Linked DNA regions of Homo sapiens. The protein of the gene in region 1 interacts with the protein of each later gene in a pairwise test. Each region holds a gene or a part of one and is shown in the gene's direction. Other genes may lie near its edges.

Region 1 (3,500 bases):
GAAACCAAGTCAAAAATGTGTTCTCTAAACTCTTTCCTTAATATTTAATTCTAAATCAAATATCAAACTTAAACATTATGTTGAATTTCTTCTTTAATATTTCTGTAAGTTACAGCATTTGTAATAAATTCTCCCTATTGTCCTATTTCAAATTCATTTTATCCTCCTTCCCTGATTTTATTTGTCTGTTCTTCTAACATTGGTGTTATCCAGGTTCTTTATTCAGCACTGTGTTACTCTTCTCACTCTTCTTTCACCTTCAGTCACCTTAAGCAGCTAACTCCCAGATCTACAGCTCTGGGAACACTTCTTTTTTTAAGGCTTAATTTCACACCCTTGTTGAAATACTTGAGTACCTCCAGACATCTCAAATTTAACACAACTAAACTTGATCTTTCCAATAACAAAGAACATTTTGTTTTTCTTTATCCTGGGTTACTGTCCACCTGTCTATTTTTGTGCTCAGTTTTTCTCTTTTCCACACTCCTCCCTCCTACATTTGAAAGGTAGCCCATTCTTTTCTTAATGTCAGTGCTGTAGTCTGGTTTTTTGTTTGTTTGTTTTTGTTTTGTTTTTTTTGAGACAGCGTCTCGCTTTGTCACCCAGGTTGGAGTGCAGTGGTGCAATCTTGGCTCACTGCAACTGCTGCCACCTGGGCTCAAGTGATCCTACCATATCAGCCTCCGAAGCAGCTGGGACTACAGGTGCATGCCACCACACCCAGCTAATTTTTTTTTTTTTTTTTTTTTTTTTTTTTTTTGCAGTTGCAAGATTTAATAGAGTGAAAACAGAGCTCCCATACAAAGGGAGGGGACCCAAAGGGGGTTGCTGTTGCCAGCTCGAATGTCTGGGTTTATTTCCTGATCGTTGTCCCTCCCTCTGTGCTCTCAGGCAACAGATGATTGGCTATTTCTTTACCTCCTGTTTTTGCCTAATTAGCATTTTAGTGAGCTCTCTTTACTATCTGATTGGTCAGGTGTGAGCTAAGTTGCAAGCCCTGTGTTTAAAGGTGGAAGCGGTCACCTTCCCAGCTAGGCTTAGGGATTCTTTGTCGGCCTAGGAAATCCAGCTAGTCCTGTCTCTCAGTGCCCCCTCTCAACAGGAAAACCCAAGTGCTGTTGGGGAGGTTGGCCGACAACCACTCTAACTGCTTCCCGCTGAATTGGGACGTAGTAGGGGTTGTGCAGTTGAGATTTCCTCAGGAGGGGTGCCTTCAATGTCATTAACATTGGAGCATGGGCTAGCAGGCCGGTCCAGGGGTCTGTGGTAGATTTTAGTCATGGACTGTCTGGGGCTCCATTTGAAGAACGATTTGTAGTTTTACAGCTTCAATTCTGGAAGAGACAAACTTAACAAGGAGGTTAAAGATAGAGGGATTGAAATGTATGGCCTGCAGTGCAGGGGATTATTTCTTTGGCACACTTTACAGGCCTTGACTATCTGCTTGATAGTTTTGAAAAGGTCTGGTCCAGTAAATAATGATTTGGCCATCTGATGGCACACCCAGCTAATTTTTATATTTTTTGTAGAGATGGGGTCTTGCCATGTTGCCCAGACTAGTCTCGAGCTCCTGGGCTCAAGCGATCAGCCCACCTCCTTGGCCTCCCAAAGTGCTGGGATTACATGTGTGAGCCACCATGCCTGGCCTAGTCCAGGTTTTTATCTTTTATTTGAACCATTACAGTAGCCTTTAGTTCTTTGAATTCCTACATCCTTTCACGGTGCCAATAGATTTGTTTGAAGGCACAGTTATCTCACTGGTTACATACCACACACATGGACATGCACACACATCCCCCCCCCCCCACACACACACTCCCACACCCCACTCCACCCCCCCACCACACACACACTCTGTCTCACTCCACCATCCCCAGAATTCCTCACCCCCTGACAGTAAAACCTCTTAATGTTTATTTCCTATGGAATCAAGTTTTTAGCCTGGCATTCAAGTCCCTGTATAGTCACATCCAAACTTAACTTTTTCTGCACCTGCATGCATTCTGTATGGTAATATTTCTATATAGTACTTCATAATTTAACTTCCATTCTGATTTTGTTTTCTAACATCTTTTAATGAAGTGGTTAGGGGAGGTAGATTCATCCTCATTTTATATGTGAAGAAATTGAAACTTGTAGAAGTGAAGTGCCTTGTTCACGTTTTAATACCTAGTTTATAGGACAGTCAAGACCCAAACCCAAGTCTTTCCTTTCCTCCTTTGCCATACTGCCAATTAGATGCGAGTACCGGTGTGGAAAAAATGCCTATTTATCTATGTAGTAATTTTCTCTCTGAAAGTGAAAGATTATATGTGGAATGAATGGTACCTTTGAAAGCTCTAGGTCAGTTATTCTCACTCTTTTTGAAATATAAGGATTCCTTTTTTAATTTACTTTTTGGTGGGGTGGGGGTGCGGAGACAGAGTCTCCCTTTGTCATCTACCTATGCTGTGGTGTAATCATAGCTCACTGCAGCCTCCAACTCCTGGGCTCAAGTGATCCTTCCACCTCAGCCTCCAGAGTAGCAGGGACTACAGCCATCTGCCGCCATGCCTGGCTTGGTTTTTTTATTTTGTTTTTTTGTTTGTTTGTTTGTTTGTTTGTTTGTTTTTTATTTTTTTGAGACAGAGTCTCGCTCTGTTGCCCAGGCTGGAGTGCAGTGGTGTGATCTCTGCTCACTGCAACCTCTGCCTCCTGGGCTTAAACCATTCTCCCACCTCAGCCTCTCTGAGTAGCTGCAACTACAGGTATGCACCACCATGCCTGGCTTATTTTTTTTTGTATTTTTGGTAGAAACAAGGTTTCACCATGTTGGTCCAGCTGGTCTTGAACTCCTGTCCTAAAGTGATCTGCTCGCCTCGGCCTGTCAAAGTACTGGGATCATAGGCACGCCCAGTGAGGATTCCTTTTTAATATCAGTTAATTCTGTAGTCCCTCACATGGCATAGAGGTTGTATATTCTAATATCCATTGATTGGGAAAATGGCAGAACTACTCTGAGGCCAGTAATACGTTAAAATTTTTTAAAATGTATTTATACATAATCTATATAGTTTTAACATAATTATAATGGGTCAAACATCAATGCTTGATGTGCTTATAGACTTCAAGATTTTTCCAATAACTGAAACTTTGCAGAGATCCACTGCCCTGGGAAAGTGGCTAGAACCAGTCCTCTAGGGCAGTAAAATTCCCCCAAAATTTTATTTGATGAAACTCTGTAGCATTAGCACTTGTTACCTAAATTAGTCTTTCATCTTTCTGGCTGGGCATGGTACTCATGCCTGTAATCCAAGCACTTTGAGAGGCCAAGGCAGCCCAGGAGTTTTGGGACCAGCCTGGGCAACGTAGGGCAACCCCATCTCTAATAAAAAAAAGAAAGAAAAGTCTTTCATCTTTCTATGCAATGAACAGTACTGAGTTTATCACTAGTTACAAGAGTAGAATTTGGAAAATATTTCTAGAATAGATGAATCTCATTGTGAAATTACTGCTTTTGT
Region 2 (3,500 bases), on another chromosome or scaffold:
GGTCCGGTGCTGGGGCGGGGGCCAGGACTGCAGGCCGCGCCTGACGCTCTCTTTTCTTTTCTTGCATCTGCCCGCGATCTTCTCCCAGACCTTTCTGCGAGTACGAGCCAACCGGCAGACCCGACTGAATGGTGAGTCCTGCCCGGCCCCTCCCTCCGCCCCACCCCCGGCCTCCTCCCTCCCTCCCTCACTGCCTGCCGCTCCTGGCTTGCCTGGGTCTCTTCGACTCTGGGGCCCGTTGGCTTCTTCGCAGTCACGGCGCCTGAGTATGTGCAAACCAAAGCTGCCGCTCTCAGTTTCCCCGTCTGTCTAATGGAGGTATGGCGCCCAGCTCTTGCCCAAACCTCTCTAAAGGCCCTGAAGAACCCTGGGGGGGCAATAAGTGCCGGAGAATGAGGAACGAGCTACACAATTCTACTCGGGAGCTCAGCTTTGAATTTGCAAACTGCTGGGACCTCACTATACAAACCTGCAGGGCGCTGAGAATGTTTTTCTTCCAGTTTTTAATCAGTGCCCAGTAGTGTGAATACAGCCCCTCTGCTGAGACTTGACAATACAGTGAGATCTGGAGTTCCCACGGCAACAGGAACTAACTCATCCCAGGGCTCTTTGAGTTATCAGTCGGCCCACATTTCACAAAGGTGATCAGCGTGGGCTCGACAGCTCTTAGAGGCCTTCTCTGAAAGCAGGCCGTGTATGCACTACCTAGCAGCCCCCCTTTTGGATTCAAACCTCTGGAGCATTCCTGTTTGCTGAATACAATTGAATGATCCTAGCTTTTTGTGCTTACTGGGGTGTGGTATCTGGGGGGTGGCTGTAAGGGGTTTAGGGTCTCTGGGTCAGCTGGTAAGTGAGAGAGGCCATGGAGTTCAAGATCCCCAGCTCTTATCACTTGGTTTCTGCTGCCAGGCTGAGCCCTAGTCTGGAAAAGGGAGAAATTCATGATGGGCTGGCGCCATGTTAAGCACCATTCTCACAACGCCTCTGAGAAGAGTATTACACACCTTTTGTGAATAAGAAAACAGGCTCTGAGAGGTGAAAGTGGTTTGTTTAAAAGTACACAGCTGGGATGTAACTGAGCCATGATTCAATTGAAGTTTGTTTCCCACCAAAGCCCGTGTTTCTCCAACCATGCCATGCTACCTCCTTGGCAAATGCTTTGATTCTTCCTACTCGTACGTAGCCTCTGGATAGAGAACAGAACTTTCCCTACCACACTTTGGTAAGCTTAATTCAGGATTTAGAAGATGAATGGGAAGGTGAAAACCAAACCTGCCTTCCTTCTCTGAGAATTTGCAGATGAAGCCCAGTCCATTGGGGTGCTTTCCAGGGACAACAAGGGATCATCTGCTGGCCTGTGTGTCCTGAGCAAGGAGCGCATCCAGTATTGTGCCTTTCTTGACCATTCCATGAGATTCGTTTCCTTAGTCATTGAACATTGTGGTATCATCAGCACCTTCTTCCCCAGGGAGGCATTCCCTTGGTGTAGGCATGGTAGGGAGGAAGCTTTGTGTTGGCACACTGCTCCTTACTACACTTCTAGAACTCTCAGGGTCCTTTGCTCAATGCCTTTCTGATGTTTCACGTCCATTCTCCATCCCAGCCCTGGCTCTAGAGTGTCAAGGCTACCTAAGTCTGAGATTCCAAGAGTTAGGGCAGCCAAAATGAAGAGTTCTCGATCTGTGTCCACAAAGTCAAGTGAGGCACTAGGACACAGTCATGTCACCTATAGTGAAGACACAGGAAAGTGAAGAGATGGACTGGGCTACAGACCAAGTTTCCTCAAACTCCATGCCCAGTTCTGGCAGGATGGTAGCTTTCCTTTTGGTTTGGGTCTTTCTGGGGTTGCTCTGTTTTGGAGTTGGAGTAGCTCCCTGCCTCAGGCTCACAACAGGCAGGAGCTGGAGCCCTAGCACACTCACTGGGACCAGTCTTTGTTGATGCTGCTCAGTTAGGAGGTCCCCTTGAAACAGGAGGGCATTCTAGGTTGTGAAGTCAGTTCTGGTTTCCTATCTTGCCTTTGCCACTTTTTAGCTACTTGGACACGTACCTTGATCTCTCTAAGCTTTGGGTTTCTTCATCTGTTAAAATGGGATAATGCAATCTAGCTTCAGCAAGTGGTAGTAAATGAGCTACCTTGGGTAAGGTACTTGGCTGTGAGCCTGACACACGGTAGAAGCTTAAATTGTAACATAGCAGCTCTCACCTGTGTTCCCCTCCTAGATTGCATTCATGAGCTTCCCGTTAGGGTCACTGTCCATGAGAAAGTTCTTCCTGGCCCTGCTTTGGGGAACCTTTCCCTCCTTTGCTGGCTCTCCCCACTCCCCATCAGTCTGGTCCCAGAGTAGCCATCTCTGATCCTGCTGTGGCATTCTGGAAGGGACTAGAGGGAAGAGAGTTTCTTGTTTTGACCCCTTCCTGCTTCAGTGACAGGAGGGCTACAGAGAGGGATTAGTGAGCTAATTAGAAATGATTGCATTGCTCAGCATTAATTAGCAGTGTTGTGGGCTTGCAGTGTGCACTTTGGAACTGAGCCCCCTGTGGGACAACATGGCAGGCAGCCCTCTGCCTCCAGGGCCTGCCAGCCCCTCTGTACTGATTAGAAATGATGGAACAGGTTCGGGTGGGCACAATAAGGGCTGCCTTCTCAGGGTTCCCTGAGCCTTCTGACCTGGCTGCCAAAGGTCTGACCCAGACCGTCTTACCTTTATGACTGGGCCTCAGTCTCCTCTTCTGTGAAATGGGATTAGTGGACCTCAGAGAAATTCTTCCTGATAAGATTCTAGGTGGGATGCTAGGAGCTGTACCTCAGGGCTCTTGGCCCAGGAACCAAAGAGGATTTAGCTGATGAGTGAACAGCAGGCCAAGTCAGGCCATCGGAGGGGTTAGGTTCTAGTCAAGAGATGCTCTTTAGAGTTGTATTTCCTGACACCAAAAGAGTTCATGGTCTTGGCCTTCTGGAGAGATACCTAGCAACATGGAGTGTCTTTGCTCACTGGATTTTTATTAAACACTGCAAATAGAAAGGTATGGGTAGACCTTGCACCAGCTGCAGCCAAAGAGTGGACTTACTCACTGGCTTAGTTAGCACCAGTCTCCTCCCCAGGTGCTCTTGGCAAAGCCCAGTCCCCAAAGGAGCAGGAGGTATTTCAAGATGAGGGCCAGATCAGGCACTGAATAAAAAGGCCAATGGCTGGCAAGAGGTCAGGATGTGTCAGCTCCACTGGGACCCTGGGGGCTGCAGTGACCGTCTGCTTGTTCTGTGCTTTGTTTTCGGTTTCCCCGTGCAGCTCGGATTGGGAAAATGAAACGGAGGAAGCAAGATGAAGGGCAGGTATGTCCCCTGTGCAACCGCCCCCTGGCAGGATCGGAGCAGGAGATGAGTAGGCATGTGGAGCATTGCCTTTCTAAGGTAGAGGGGCCATCACCACCCACCTTCCTTCCCCGCTCCCTTCCCCCGACACTAGCTGCTGACTGCCCCTGAATCTGTGGGCTCTTGG
Region 3 (3,500 bases), on another chromosome or scaffold:
ACAAACGTAGAAATGAAAACAAAAAGACAAAAGAAACTTTTAAGGAAAGGCAACATGGGGAAGAAGAGGAGAGCTCCCTGCTTCTAGTGAGTAAAGGCTGCCCCTGAGCTTCTACAGCCCTTCATATTTATTGGGTAACAAGAGCAAGGAGGAGGTAACAACTGGGCAGCTGCTAAATTGATCACAGGTTCATACTGTTACTGACAGGCTTCAATTATGCCTAATCATAAGAAACATTTGTGTGGCCTCCAACAGGTGGGGCCAGCTTGGAGGGTCTCTACCACTTGTCTATCCAGAGGTCCTGGGGTCAGTTGTCCTGGGACCCTCGGGGACTTGGTGAATCTCTTGCTTGATGTGTCAGTCACTTGGTGAGGGTCACTCCTCTCCAGGGGGGCACACGATGCTTTGTGGAGTATGATAATTTATCACTAAGGGAGGCTGTAGAAATATATATATGAGACAGGTTCTTGCTCTGTCGCCCAGGCTGGAGTGCAGGGGCATGATCACAGCTCACTGCAGCCTCGACCTCCTGGGCTCAAGAGATCATCTCACCTCAGCCTCCCAAGTAGCTGGGACCACAAGCGTGTGCTACCATGCCTGGCTAATCTTAGTTTTTTTATTTTTATTTATTTATTTATTTTTTTTTTTGAGATGGAATCTTGCTGTGTCACCCAGGCTGGAGTGCAATGGCACAATCTCAGCTCCCTGCAAGCTCCGCCTCCCAGGTTCAACAATTGTCCTGCCTCAGCCTCCTGAGTAGCTGGGATTACAGGCACCCGCCAACATGCCCAGCTAATTTTTTTTTTGTATTTTTAGTAGAGGTGAGGTTTCACCATCTTGGTTAGGCTGGTCTCGAACTCCTGACCTTGTGATCCGCCTGCCTCGGCCTCCCAAAGTGCTGGGATTACAGGCGCGAGCCACCGTGCCTGGCCGATATCTTTGTTAATTAAGGGTATAGCACATTTTCATTTGTGTTGCAAATGTTTCCACTATAGTAGTAGTTCACTTTTGTTGTATTTATTTTAATTTTGATGTTTAAATTGTAGATAGCCAAATGTACAAATCCTTTCCTCTGTGCAATTTGGTTTTCAAGACATACTTAGAAATAGCTAATTTTCTCATTTTCTTCTTGTTTTTTGGGAGTTTTAATATTTAAATTTTATATCCATGTGGGGCCGGGCGTGGAGGCTCACGCCTGTAATCCCAGCATTTTGGGAAGCCGAGGCGGGCGGATCATCTGAGGACAAGAGTTTGAGACCAGCCTGGCCAACATGGTGAAACCCCATCTCTACTAAAAAAGTATAAACATTAGCCGGGCACGGTGGCACACACCTGTAGTCCCAGCTACTCGGGAGGCTGAGACAGGAGAATCAGTTGAACGCAGGAGGTGGAGGTTGCAGTGAGCTGAGACCCCGCCACTGCACTCTAGCCTGGGCGACAGAGCAAGACTTGGTCTCAAAAAATAAATAAAATAAATGTTATATCCACGTGGGATTGTTTTGCTGTAAGAAAATAAATTGGTGGCCGGGCGCAGTGGCTCACGCCTGTAATCCCAGCACTTTGGGAGGCCGAGGCGGGTGGATCACGAGGTCAGGAGATCGAGACCATCCTGGCTAACACGGTGAAACCCAGTCTCTACTAAAAATACAAAAAATTAGCCCGGTGTGGTGGCGGGCACCTGTAGTCCCAGCTACTCAGGAGGCTGAGGCAGGAGAATGGCGTGAACCCGGGAGGCGGAGCTTGCAGTGAGCCGAGATCGCACCACTGCACTCCAGCCAGGGCGACAGAGCGAGACTCCGTCTCAATAAAAATAAATTCGTATCTAGATTGGCTTTGTTCTTATTTTCCTAATGTGTCGCCCGTTGTCTTCACCCCATTTATGGTCAGTGCGTTAGTCTCCCACTGCTGTGAAGTCCGTGCGCTGCTGTTGGGAAGATGGTGTTGCTGGGTAACTGGCTGTGTTTCTTCCAGATTACAGAGTCACGGGAGACACCGTTCTGTGTTACTGCTGTGGCCTGCGCAGCTTCCGTGAGCTGACCTATCAGTATCGGCAGAACATTCCTGCTTCCGAGTTGCCAGGTAAGGAGCCCCCGACTTCCTCATGGCTCTAGTTCTGTCTGGGTTGGCTTCTTGGCTTCTGCCTCTCTTTTTTTTTTTTGAGACAGTTTCGCTGTTTTTGCCCAGGCTGGAGTGCAGTGGTGCAATCTCGGCTCACTGCAACCTCTGCCTCCTGAGTTCGAGCAATTCTTCTGCCTTAGCCTCCTGAGTAGCTGGGATTACAGGCACCCGCCACCACGCCCGGCTAATTTTTTGTGTTTTAGTAGAGACGGGGTTTCACCATGTTGGCCAGGCTGGTCTCGAACTCTTGACCTCGGCCTCCCAAAGTGCTAGGATTGCAGGCATGAGCCACCACGCTCGGCCAGCACTCTTTTCTTTACAGACACCCTGTTTGCACTTTGCTCAATGTTCTAAGCAGAATTTGGCCTCAGTCAGGAGCCGGCAGGACGTCAGGCCATACAGGGCTGTGGTTGTTTTAGGCCCTGGGTCTATTTGCAGTTACTCATGAGTGTAACGTGGGTTTCTAAAACAGATTTGTAAAGACATCCAATAGTCAACTGGGGTAATTTTATTTCCTCAATTGGGTTTTTATTTTTTAATTTTTATTTATTTATTTATTTTTGAGACAGAGTCTGACTCTGTCGCCCAGGCTGAAGTGCAGTGGTGTGATCTTGGCTCACTGCAACTTCCCTCTCCCAGGTTCAAGCGATTCTCCTGCCTCTGCCTCCCAAAGTGCTGGGATTACAGGCATGAACCACTGTACCTGACCCTCAGTTGGGTTTTTAGTTAAACATGTGTTTCCTTTCCTGAAATCTCAGAACGGTCCGAGGAAACTAGTTATGGAGGGACCAGAGGCCGTGCGTTTCCACCGCAGCGTCTGTCGTTGGGTCTCTGCTGGGATTCAGGTAGCTGAGTGGGTGCGTGCAATACATCTCATAGATGCGTACCCCTTCTCTTTTTCCAGTGGCCGTAACATCCCGTCCTGACTGCTACTGGGGCCGTAACTGCCGCACTCAGGTGAAAGCTCACCACGCCATGTGAGTGCAGCTGGGGGCACAGGCGTCAGCTACAGAGTGATGAATGAGTTAACTGCCTGCTTATAAATAGGCTGATATGGTCATTATGCTTCTCTCAGGTTGCATCCTTTAGGAACCGGTATCTTCATTTAGAAATCCTGCTCTTCCTTTATCCCTTCGTTTCATGCAGTTTTATCTCCGTCTTCCACTTCTGTGTCTTCCTGGCTGGAGTAGCTTTATCTGTTGTCTGAGGCATCCGGGGCACACCCCATCATTTCAGGCTTAGCCGTTTCTAAGTCGAAGGCTGCAGTCACTGAGGGCCTCAGGCCCCCCTCGCAAAGCGCTGCACAGCTGGGTTCTCGTCCGTCCCGTGAGCAGGCATTTGTGATTGCTGTCACATCGTCACCCTCACGTGGTGTCTTTCCC
Region 4 (3,500 bases), on another chromosome or scaffold:
AGTCTTAGTTCCTTCACCCCCCACTCTGAGTTCGGTGGGGTCCTGGGATGCTCTGGGGTGACTTTGCCAGTCCTAATTCACATGGTTGAGCATTTCCTCCTGCAAGGTAGAATCCTTATCTTCATGAGGCACCCTTTTTCTCTTTAAAAGCTGTTCTAGAACAAAGCCCAGCACCTCAGCTGGGCTACTACAGACTATATGAGGTCAATGATCGCCTTGGGAAGCTGTGACTATTTTGCTTGTGGCCAGGAAGAGTGTCCCAGGCCACCCACCCAGAGGCCCAGAGATTCTTACTTTCTGAAAGTCACCTTAGGAGTATTTTGAGCTGCCCAATTAATTGGGTAAATAGATTTTCTCATTGTCACAGAGATGTGGGTTGAGAATTGTTTGCTACCTCCCCTTTCACTGAGAGCACTGTGAATTTTTATTAGTTATTGCCAATTAGTTTTTTATTTATCATTTGATACTGACATTTGGATTCTGTTCTCCCATTTCAGACTGGCATAATTCTCCATTTAAGACTACTAAATAAGGTTTGAAAGAGAAAGGATCTATCAGAAGTTACCCTTCCCTCTTTCTACCATCCAAGTAGCTAAAAAAACAAATGACTTCTTTCAGAGGTGAGAAGTATCCTGATAACAAAAGGATGTGTATAGGCCAGGGTATTAAACTTGGATTGTTCCAGACCACTGGATCGTCACTGGAACTTTTACAGAGTAATTTCTGTTTAAAGAAGCACTTGGCAGGCATGTTGATAGGTCACTTACCTTAACAATCCTTTGAGGACAATGATTTTTTTCCACTTTGTTACAGATGAGCAAACTGCAGCTACAAAAGGATAATATTTAGATCTTGTCTTTCACATTCAAAGATGACACCAATAACTGAGAAGTTGGCCTTGCAACTTAAATTGTTTTGATTTAGGATTGTGGTGATATGATAGGGTTATGCTTAGTCGTTCATATCATCTACAATTTTTTAACCTTTTTCTTCAAATTGTTTCTTATATTGAATGTGACCTTGTAGTAGTTTTCTTTATAAAGTTAACTACCATATATAATAATTAGTTCAATGACCCTGACCTTAACCAGACAGTCTTGACCCAGAGAGGCAAATAATTTGCTAAAAGTCCCAGATTACAAAAGCGGCAAAGCCTACGTATAGAATCCTTTAGACATGTGTTTTAGCCCTGTGCTGTTTTGTCTGTTGTCATGTTAAGCTGCTAATGTTTTCACTCTGGCAAAATAGGGTTGCTTTTATTTGCCTAGCTTCTGTGTGATTGGATAGACTTAGAAAAATGGAAAAGCCTAAAATATACTATCCACAGCCCCTGATCATACAATGGGACTGATTTCTGCCCAGTTACAAAAACTATAGTAGAATGCTGCTTTTCTTGAAACTGGGCCATAGGTCATTGCAAGCTTCTAAGCAACAATTCTATTATAACTTTTTTTTTTTTTTAGCTATGGCATTCTTCTGGCATCTAACTTTCCTTTGACAAGTTCTTTTCAAGTTTTTTATGCTTCTTTTCTTACCCTTATCCCCATAGCAAAATCTCCTTGTAAAAAATTCACTTTTTAAATCAGTCTGCCCTCTTAACATCTCCCAGTTCTTCCATTTTAGCCATTTTACCATTTCTCCTCCGAAATGCCCCCTTAAGTTCCCAACCTTCACTTTAGCTTTTTGGGTCTAGTAATATCCTCTAATATACGACAGTCATTGAGCTACAGAAGTTTCACAACAGCTTAAGCTTGTGGATTTAATGATAGCAGTAGTAAGAAGAAAGAAAAAGATGAAGGATAATACTGAAGTCATGTTGATATGTGTGTCATATTAGATATTCCCAGCTTACAGTGTCAGTGGGGAAATTTAAGATTCAGATGAATGAAGTGACAGATGCACTCATCTGTGGCCTCACAGACACTCTCCTGATACAAGCTGAAAAATATAACTGAAGACAGCATCCTGGGTTACAGAAGGAAAACAAATGTTAAGCTCTGAGAAAAGAACTGGGCAAAAAGTGAAGGGTCAGGGGTGGGGTGGGTAGGATGGTGGAAAAGAAATACCTCCAGTAAAATGCCAGACAGGGTGGTAAGAAATTTATAGAGGTGCAGACGGTTTGGGGTTTCTTGGGGGCATTGATTCTGTTTTATATTGTCCTCACAACCTGCTCACCCTGCTTGCTTTAAATAATTTATTATAGCAGCAGGCCTTCCCCTGGTTAGTTTCTTTCTTTTTTTTTTTTTTTTTAATAACTTTTTCCTTCTCATCTCTGGGTCTAATCAGAGGCATATATAATAGTGTGGCTGCCCTGGAGTACTTAGGAAAATCTGTGATCAATATCACTATATTATAAACCTATGGCTGTTTTGTTCTATTTTGCAATGTTTTCTTCCCTGTTATATTAACTCAGTATCTGTGTTTTAAACAATATTTTATTAATCTCTGCACAATGTTACTTCTTGGCTTATTCCTTTTGGCTGGAACTATCTTTTGAGTAATCCGTCATTGGACCACCATTGATCTAATGATGTATTTATTGCTCACTGTTGCAGTACTGGCAAGAAACCTAGTGCGGTTCTAAAAATTTGATTAAAAAGAAATCAAGTTTTTGCAATGCGTAGCCATCCAACTATGTTAGGAGCTGCCGAGTATATTTTATGCTAAAATATAAACATATTTCAAGTGAGCAAAATGTGCTGGTTTTGAAGGCTTTTAAAACTTTTTGCTGTGAAATCATAGAACAACAAGAGAACTCATAATTGGGAAAATTATGAGTACACTCCCCCACCCCTGCCAAAGGTAAGATGTGGTACTTTTTCAGATTATACCCTTGAACACTAAAATAGATAGACTTATCTTTTTAATTGACAATAATGAAAACAGTGGTGATAAGAACTAGCTCCCAGTCCTTCAGTGATATTTCAGGTAATCTTTACGAATGAAAGTGAGCTGAAATTAATTAACAAATACTAATTGAGTACCTATCATGGGTAGTACTTCTCTACTTAGCCAATTCAGGATTCAGTTCAAATATTAATGCCTTTGGGAAGCTTTTCCCTGTCCCCGTTTGACCTGATGTCTTCTTCAGGCAGAACCCTTATCTGCTGTATTCTCCCTCTTGGAGCCCCTTGAGGCAAGGGACCACACTTTTCATCTTGTAGCTTCTCAAGCAAGGTTACTCAAGAAAGAGTTGCTGGGTGTGCTAGAGGCTACAAAGAATTACAAGTGAACATTTACAAGGCCTTAAAAGGATATGCATAAAGATAGTTCACCAAAAGTTTGAATGGTAGCAGTAAGTGAATCCTAGTGTTCAACTGTCAACTTTAGCAGTGATCTCAGCACTTCATAGAATTATTATATCATCCATTCCTACTCCATCCATCTCCAAAGTCCCTCTGTTTCATTTCTACCTTGCCTCCTCCTCTCACTACCTTCCTATGTGTCTTCTCTAAGGATGTCTTCAACTCCCACCCTAGGCTAGGTCATCTCCCCTGATT

The links. The genes of interacting proteins can lie anywhere in the genome.
Region 2: the proteins of UBE2W (region 1) and RNF220 interact in a two-hybrid assay, tested with the Homo sapiens proteins (one large-scale study listed by IntAct).
Region 3: the proteins of UBE2W (region 1) and CHFR interact in a two-hybrid assay, tested with the Homo sapiens proteins (one large-scale study listed by BioGRID and IntAct).
Region 4: the proteins of UBE2W (region 1) and MARCHF3 interact in a two-hybrid assay, tested with the Homo sapiens proteins (one large-scale study listed by BioGRID and IntAct).

The regions. Positions count from the first base shown.
Region 1 is NC_000008.11:73,819,863-73,823,362, reverse strand, and holds part of UBE2W (ubiquitin-conjugating enzyme E2 W), read left to right. Parts: intron 1-3,500. UniProt on the Homo sapiens protein: Accepts ubiquitin from the E1 complex and catalyzes its covalent attachment to other proteins.
Region 2 is NC_000001.11:44,632,255-44,635,754, forward strand, and holds part of RNF220 (E3 ubiquitin-protein ligase RNF220), read left to right. Parts: intron 1-88; coding exon 89-131; exon of another isoform or gene 132-136; intron 137-2,983; exon of another isoform or gene 2,984-3,290; coding exon 3,291-3,334; coding exon of another isoform or gene 3,335-3,412; exon of another isoform or gene 3,413-3,500. UniProt on the Homo sapiens protein: E3 ubiquitin-protein ligase that promotes the ubiquitination and proteasomal degradation of SIN3B. Independently of its E3 ligase activity, acts as a CTNNB1 stabilizer through USP7-mediated deubiquitination of CTNNB1 promoting Wnt signaling.
Region 3 is NC_000012.12:132,842,606-132,846,105, reverse strand, and holds part of CHFR (E3 ubiquitin-protein ligase CHFR), read left to right. Parts: intron 1-1,971; coding exon 1,972-2,079; intron 2,080-3,022; coding exon 3,023-3,095; intron 3,096-3,500. UniProt on the Homo sapiens protein: E3 ubiquitin-protein ligase that functions in the antephase checkpoint by actively delaying passage into mitosis in response to microtubule poisons.
Region 4 is NC_000005.10:127,024,059-127,027,558, reverse strand, and holds part of MARCHF3 (E3 ubiquitin-protein ligase MARCHF3), read left to right. Parts: intron 1-3,500. UniProt on the Homo sapiens protein: E3 ubiquitin-protein ligase which may be involved in endosomal trafficking. E3 ubiquitin ligases accept ubiquitin from an E2 ubiquitin-conjugating enzyme in the form of a thioester and then directly transfer the ubiquitin to targeted substrates.